2 linked regions of the Homo sapiens genome follow. The protein of the gene in region 1 purifies or fractionates together with the protein of each later gene. This does not show direct contact. Each region holds a gene or a part of one and is shown on either strand. Other genes may lie near its edges.

Region 1 (4,285 bases):
AGACAGTAGGAGCCAGAATATGGGTTTTATAGGTAATAGTAAGGAGTTAGGATTTCATAAAAGTATCTAGGAAGCAAGGGATTGTCGTGATCAGATTTACATTTGAATGCTATCAATCTAGCTGCTCAGTGAAGAATTGGTAATGGCAGGGCAGAGGTAAGCACACAGCAAGATCGGTTAGGAAGTAGTTCAGAAGAGAGGTGATGGTGGCTTGGCCTAGGGTGGCAGCAACGGAGGTGGGGACAAATGGATGAATTTGGGATCTATTCCGAAGGCAGAGCCAAGAGGACTTGTTGAAGAACTGGATTGTGGATCAATGAAGGACAGCACTGAATCAATGATGGCCTCTGGGTTTGTGGTCTAAACAATTCAGTGGATGGTGGTGCCATTTACACATTCTCTCATTTATTCTTCACAATAATCCTTCAGACTGGGATCCATTGTATAGCTGAGGAAACCCGGACTAGGACAAGTTGGGGGTTAGGGAGGCCTAAGGTTAACATCATAGGGGAGGCAGGATTCTAGACTAAGCCTTTTTGATTCCAGAGCCAGGACTGTCTACTATACCACAAAACCACGAATTTATTCAAAGCTTGGATGAATAACGTGTGTTCTTGGAACACCTGACATGCTCCAAGAAGAGTTCAACATAGTTGCAGCATGGTTCCAATGTCCACGCATTTTATTACCTTGGATCTGGGAAGATTACAAAAACAATCTAGGTAGGTACTAGAAATATTATTTATGCAGTGAGCCGAGATCGTGCCACTGCACTCCAGCCTGGGGGACAGAGCGAGACTCCGTCTCAAAAAAAAAAAGAAAAAAAAAAAGAAAAAGAAAAAAAAAGAAATATTATTTATGTCAGCTGAAAAAAAAGGAGGGATCACTCCAGTTTTAACCCCTTCTTGTACAGAAAAAGACTGAAACTCATAGAAGGAAAGAGATCAGAGGCTAATTCTCCAGATTCTCTCCCTGACGTGGGCACCTAGCCAACCACACGACCAGAGACATCCCACCCACGCCCCTGTGGCCTCACGATGATGTAGGCATCCAAGATGGAACGGTAGAGTGCCAGGACACGGGTGAGGTTAACAGCTAGCTGCTTCCTCCCCTCATGAGAGAGGCCTCGGGCGGAGATGCCCGGCATCCCGGGGTCCAGCAGGGAGCGCGGGGAGCGAGAACGCAGTGAACAGGGATCCAGGGTCAGTACTACGCGGGTCCAGGACCCGGACGGGGCTCAACTCTGCAGGCAGAACAGGAAGAGTTTTGGGTCCAGTCTCCGACGCTGCCTTTCCGGGATCCGATGCTGGAGTGGAAGATTTGAGGCGCCCCCCAGACGTCACAGGTCGCGACGTTTCACAGTGAGAAGGTGTCAGCGTCAGAGACACGTAGGGCGGGGTAACAGTGCAGTGACGCCACAAAAGCGTGCCGCTGAGCTCAGCTCACAACGAGGCGGGCCAAGTTCCAGTTCCCGCCCCTTGCCGTACACTCCTCTCCTCTTACGGAAGTGAAGCCGGAGGTGTCCGGCGGGCTGCAGTTCCGGTTTATCGCGGCCTTCCCACACCTTCGCGTTGTACCACCACGGGGCTAGAGGGGCCGGGGAGCGCATCCCGCCCCCGCCCCCACCCACGCCGCCCCCTCCTCCGCCGCCACTGCCGCTCCTCACACACTCGGAATCACTGGCCTCACTACCTGGGGTCGGGGCGGTGCGGGTGTGCGCGCGCCGACCTCTGGCGCGTTCTAACCCGCGCGCCTGCCTTCCCGGGCTTCGTCGGCGCGCACCGATTTCCGCATCCGGCTCCGGACGCTTCCGGTCTTAGCTGGACCCGTCTGGGAGGTAGGTTTGTGAGCGTGAGAGATCGATCTGTACCGCGGGGATCCGAAGTATGCTTATCCAGGTGGGCTGCCTCAAGCCTCGATCCCACCCCCGCGCTGGTAGATGGTGTCAAGGTCCTTGCGTGGGAGAAGGACTTGGGTGAGATGCATGCGGAGATTGCCCCCAATTCCGGCCTGGAGCCAAGGGAAAGGGATGCCTGGATTTGTGTCTCTATTGGTGGTCCACGCTGCGGATGCCTGGGTAGCCCAGAGGTTATCTACGCCATACTTCTCACTGTTTTTGAGCATACCTAGATGTTCCTTTCCTAGGCGGAGTATAGATCGCACGTGTTCTAGCCTCTTAGACTCAGAGGGTTCGAGCTCTATAAGCCCCTCCACTCCCTTCATTTTACAAATGAGACTCAAACCTAGAGCGCGGTAATGACCTTACTAAGACCAAATGGCTGGTGAATTGGGCTTCACTAGAATCCAGGCTTGCTGGCTAACACCAATGCTCCCTCCATCATTTCATGTTATGTTTTCATTTCCCCTCTGTCTGAGAGATTGCTCTGATGTCTTTCCTTCCATAAGTCCTACGGAGATCGAGCTTACCTCATTTTTCTCCCAGGCCTAGGAGCTCAATTACCAGGATCACTTTCTTCCCCAGGGTGTACTACAGACCTCCACATGTTGGACAGTAGGATTCAGCAGAGAATGAGTCCCACATCCTCTTTTCATCCATAAGCCACTCTTCCCAACTACTCTTCCGCCTTCCATTGTCCCTATGTCTACTTTACTGCTCAATCTGGATTTTGGGGAACCTCCTCCCAAAAAGGCATTAGAAGGAAATGCCAAGCACCGAAATTTTGTCAAGAAGCGGAGGCTCTTAGAACGGAGAGGCTTTCTGAGTAAAAAGAACCAACCCCCTAGCAAGGCGCCTAAGTTGCACTCTGAACCTTCAAAGAAAGGGGAAACTCCTACGGTCGATGGCACTTGGAAGACCCCTTCCTTCCCAAAAAAGAAGACAGCTGCTTCCAGCAATGGGTCAGGACAGCCCCTGGACAAGAAAGCTGCAGTGTCTTGGTTGACCCCTGCCCCTTCAAAAAAGGCTGATTCTGTTGCTGCTAAAGTAGATTTGCTGGGGGAGTTCCAGAGTGCCCTTCCAAAGATCAATAGCCACCCAACCCGCTCTCAGAAGAAGAGCTCCCAGAAGAAATCCTCTAAAAAGAACCATCCTCAGAAGAATGCCCCACAGAACTCCACCCAAGCTCATTCAGAGAATAAATGCTCCGGAGCATCCCAGAAGTTGCCACGGAAGATGGTGGCAATTGACTGTGAGATGGTGGGCACAGGACCAAAGGGGCATGTTAGTTCCTTGGCTCGATGTAGCATTGTCAACTACAACGGAGATGTGCTTTATGACGAGTACATTCTTCCCCCCTGCCACATTGTGGACTACCGAACCAGGTGGAGTGGTATCCGGAAGCAGCACATGGTGAATGCCACACCCTTCAAGATTGCTCGAGGCCAGGTAAGAAGCATGGGGCTTGATGGTGGCAGGGAGGTGGATGGAGAGAGGTCTAAATCATTTTTCAGCAAAGGATATCACTATGGGAAGACACCAACGTTTGTGGAGGGAGGGAGGAGAATCTATCAGTTGTTGAAGAAGGCCCCCTGTCGGTGGAAGAAGCAGTGAAAGTCAGGAAGGTACAATTAGCTGGTGTCACAAACTTCATTGGTCAAGATCTATTTTAGCCGGGCGCAGTGGCACTTGCCTATAATCCCAGCACTTTGGGAGGCTGAGGCGGGAGAATCGCTCAAGCCCAGGAACTCAAGCCCTGTCTGGGCAACATAGCGGAACTCATCTACAAAAAAGTTAGCCAAGTGTGGTACATGCCTGTAGTCCCAGCTACTCAGGAGGTCGAGGCTGCAGTGAGCTGAGATCACACCACTGCCACTGCACTCCAGCCTGAGCGACAGAGTGAGATCCTGTCTCAAAAAAACAAACAAAAAAACTATTTTAGGTTCTAAATTGGGTCTGGGGAACTGGGAATCTGCATAGAAAAATAACAGCAAGTGATGAAACTAGACAGAGCTGCAGACACCAGTGTCAGGAGAAAGGGCTTGATTTGGAAAAACCTTGCGAGTTGGAGCCTAAGCTTGAGAGAGGAAAGGTGGAGAGCTCGTCCCAAGCAAAAAGTAGCCTGGGGCAAGTGCGGAAAGTGGTGGTGGTAAGAGAGGGCAGAAAGTTGACAGGAGGAGCTGGGGTATATATTGTCCAACTGGAACAGGTAACCAGTGAACGGCATAAACGGCACAGGGCCGGCACTTCGGGTTGTCATCTCACTCCTAGCCCTGTGCTGGCCATGGAGCGCAAGGCATGAACGGAAAGGAGAGTGAGCTGGGAGGGGTGAAAGAGGAAGTGAAGGGAGAGCAAGAGACCTGCTGGTCTCAGGAGGCCGCCAGAGGG
Region 2 (3,500 bases), on another chromosome or scaffold:
CATTTCACAAAAATGGTATTGTAGTCAGAATGTCTGTTTGAGTTGGAGCAGTCTGATTTTAGGGAGTGTGAGATGTCAGATGGGAGGGTCGGCATGGATGTTTAGAGTTCTGGTTTCTTTACACATGTTTGCAGTCCCTTGTCTGCAGGGATGTCTGCAGAAGTATGGAAACTCTTGAAGGTGGGCAGAGAATGACCATGTGGTGGCTGTAAGAGCTCAATCTGGTCCCTGAAGCGATGTCTCCCTGGGGACACTCACTTTGATGTTTTCTTTCTTTTGCAAGCATCCCACTACTACAAATACAAGCAGCAGTTCATCTTCCCAGGTGAGTTTCATGTGAGCTGGAAGCAGCCCCTTCTGAACAAGCCCCGCTGCATTGCAGGAGTTTCTGGGATGAATGGAGGCAGATGTTGTGGGGGTGCCTAAGATCAAAGAGGGTAGTGGAGTCACCACACTCCAGGATAATGGCTGAACATGGAAGTGGAGAAGAAAGAGTGGGCACAGTGGGACCCAAGGAGGTCCCAAGGCACCGTGGAAAGGCCTGAGAGGGTGGAGTGCTGTAGAACACTGGGCGAGGGTGAGGAGGGGTCTAGAGCCATGTGGCAGGAAAGAGATGGTCATAGGGTCCTGAGCTGGGTACTGAGAGGATGTGAAACCAAGGGGCTTTATCATCCCAAAGGGAACCCAGGAGAAAGAAAGATTCAGAGATGACCAATGAATGCTTCAGGCTAGATATTTGAGGGTTCTGGCAGCCCCCTATTCAACAATGAGGAATTTTGTTGAGGATGTCATCCAGAACCCTGGTCCAGCTGAGCAGGTAGAGTCCAGGTGGTCCAGGAAAGGAGAAAGGAGATTGGCCAAGGGCAGAGATCCAAGATCTGGTGAAAAATTGGCTGCCATGTCGCCCAGGAATCAGGCCTTTGCGGGGGTTGTGGACTTCACATTTTTTTTCTGAGTGTTCAATCTCTGGTTTTCAGATGTGGTGCCGGTGCCGGAGACGCCGACCCGGGCGCCCCAGGTCATCCTGCATCCGGTGACCTCGAATCCAATGTAAGTGAGACAGAGACATCTTCCCCCTTTCCCAAGCTTCCCAGCCCTGGCCCTACAATCCACTCAGGTTCCCTATCTTCTTTCCTTCTCTTCCTGGAACTGATGGAGTTGGGGGCAGAGGGAGATGTACAAGGGGGTCAGAGAGACATAGGGAATAACTTAGGCAAAGAGAAAGGGCGTGACAGCTCAGACAGAGAGATGGAGAGAGAGGCAATGCTGTTCCTCACGAGCAGCTATGCCTTGTGTCTCTGACCCTGCCTGTCAAATGCAATTTCCAGGGGCTGGACCGTTTCCTAAGGACCCATAACCTCCCTGTGATTAGGAAGAAAACTTTCCCCGGGTGATAGCTAGTACTTAATGAAAGGGCAATTATTCCATGTCACTGAACATGGAATAACTTTCAAAAGTCTCATTGAGGTTTATGGAATCAGCAAACTATAGCCCATGGGACAGATCCAACCTCCTGCTTGTTTTTATTTAAAGTTTTATTGGAACACAGCCATGCCTATTTGTTTACAATGTATTGTGCATGGTTGCTTTCTCCATGCAGCAGCAGAATCGAGTAGTTGTAACATAATCTGTATGGCTTGCAAAGCCAAAAATATTTACTCTATGACCCTTTGCAGAAAGAAATTTGCTAACCTCTGGTTTATATTATTATAAAAATAATATAAGCTAATTTTGGAAAATGTGGGCTATTCTTTAAAAAGGGAAAGGCAAAATAATCACTCATGATCTCACCACTGTTAAAACTTCTATGTGTGTTCTTTCCATTTATATTTTACATAGTTATGACCCACAATATATGCAAGCAGCTACCATCCTGCTTTGTTATCTTTATGCCAAACATCACATTTTATGAATATTATTTTAGCCTCTCCATAGACATTGTTGGTTTTTGTTTTTTGTTTGTTTGTTTTGAGACAGAGTCTCACTCTGTCACCCAGGCTGCAATGCAGTGGTGCAATCACGGTTCACTGCAGCCTCAGCCTCCTGGGCTCAAATGATCCTCCCAGCTCAGCCTCCCGAGTAGCTGGGATTACAGGTGTGTGCCACCACACCCAACTAATTTTTGTATTTTTTTTTTAATTTTTTATTTTTGTAGAGACAGGGATTCACCATGTTGCCTAGGTGGGTCTCAAACTCCTAGGTGCAAGTGATCATTCCACCTCAGCCTCCCAAAGTGCTGGGATTACAGGCATGAGCCACTGCACCTGTCTGATATTGTTTTTAATGGGTGTAAAATGACATATTGATGTAGAATAATTTTCTTAACCATTTTCCTATTGCTGGATTTTACATTGCTTCCCATATTTCATTGTTGTAAATAATGCTGCAATGAACATCTTTGTGCATAGCATCCTTAGGAAACAGACCCTCTTTTCAGGTGGTTTATTGCTTGTGCAGCAGAAGTGAAGTCACCTTGGCCAGGCGCAGTGGCTCATGCCTGTAATCCCAGCACTTTGGGAGGGCAAGGTAGGAGGATCACCTGAGGTCAGGAGTTGGAGACCAGCCTAGCCAACCTGGTGAAACCCCGTCTATATTAAAAATACAAACATTAGTCAGGCGTGGTGGCACACAACTGTAATCGCAGCTACTTGGGAGGCTGAGGCAGGAGAATTGCTTGAACCCAGGAGGTGGAGGTTCAGTGAGGTGGGATTGTGCCACTGCACCCCAGCCTGGGCAACAGAGGGAGACTCTGTCTAAAGAAGAAAAAAGTGATGTCACAAAGTCACCTCCTTAACTTCTTTGGTTGCGATGGAAGCCTGGGGCTTGCTAGGATTTGACCAGTTTCCTAACTCACCTTTGTGCCTACTTAGTTTTTCTTCTGGGTCCCCTAACTGCTTCATCTTTTCTGACTGGTCTTATGGACTTTGTTAAAGACTTACATGGTACATCTCTGAAATCAAAGGAGCAGCAACTTGCCGGGGGATATGGTGCTGACATCTAGCTCGAGATCATTTCTCTGCTTCACATAAACCAATTCTACAATTTGTGCAAGATGAACTCCAGGTTATTAACTGACAGTCCAGAGGTACCAGCGAAAAACAGAGTCAATAGCTGCTTGCGATCTGCTTAAATGTGCGCGGAGTGATGACAACTCTTTGCAGAAGGAAATACTTGAATAGCCCTGGCTGCTGGAATCACGCCTTGATGCAGAGAGGAGGGTGGCCTGTTTTGGTTTTGGGCATGAGGAGGGACTCCAGCTGCATTGTCCCAGCCAAGTCTCCCCCAGGGCATCAAGTTCTCAGCATGTCAGCTGTCATCGTGCAGGTTCATTCCACTTTCCCAGGCTGTGCTATGAATAATTGGTTAATACCATGGCGAATGCCACTTTGTGGTTGACCTTTCTTTCTCCTTCTTTTAGTTCTTGTGGTCTTTCAGACTCTTTCACCAGGACCCCCTCCAGCAAGTGGATTGACTCTGTGGAGTCAGCCACTTCCTGCAAT

Evidence for each region. The genes of interacting proteins can lie anywhere in the genome.
Region 2: the proteins of ISG20L2 (region 1) and KSR2 purify together in Homo sapiens (co-immunoprecipitation; one large-scale study listed by IntAct). This does not show direct contact.

What each region holds. Positions count from the first base shown.
Region 1 is NC_000001.11:156,725,967-156,730,251, reverse strand, and holds the start of ISG20L2 (interferon-stimulated 20 kDa exonuclease-like 2), read left to right. Parts: upstream 1-1,485; 5' UTR 1,486-1,837; exon of another isoform or gene 1,838-2,482; 5' UTR 2,483-2,599; coding exon 2,600-3,346; exon of another isoform or gene 3,347-4,285. Other genes in the region: METTL25B (methyltransferase-like protein 25B), read right to left, coding at 1,037-1,147. UniProt on the Homo sapiens protein: 3'-> 5'-exoribonuclease involved in ribosome biogenesis in the processing of the 12S pre-rRNA. Displays a strong specificity for a 3'-end containing a free hydroxyl group.
Region 2 is NC_000012.12:117,528,491-117,531,990, reverse strand, and holds part of KSR2 (kinase suppressor of Ras 2), read left to right. Parts: intron 1-283; coding exon 284-325; intron 326-977; coding exon 978-1,050; intron 1,051-2,933; coding exon of another isoform or gene 2,934-2,994; exon of another isoform or gene 2,995-3,445; intron 3,446-3,500. UniProt on the Homo sapiens protein: Location-regulated scaffold connecting MEK to RAF. Has very low protein kinase activity and can phosphorylate MAP2K1 at several Ser and Thr residues with very low efficiency (in vitro).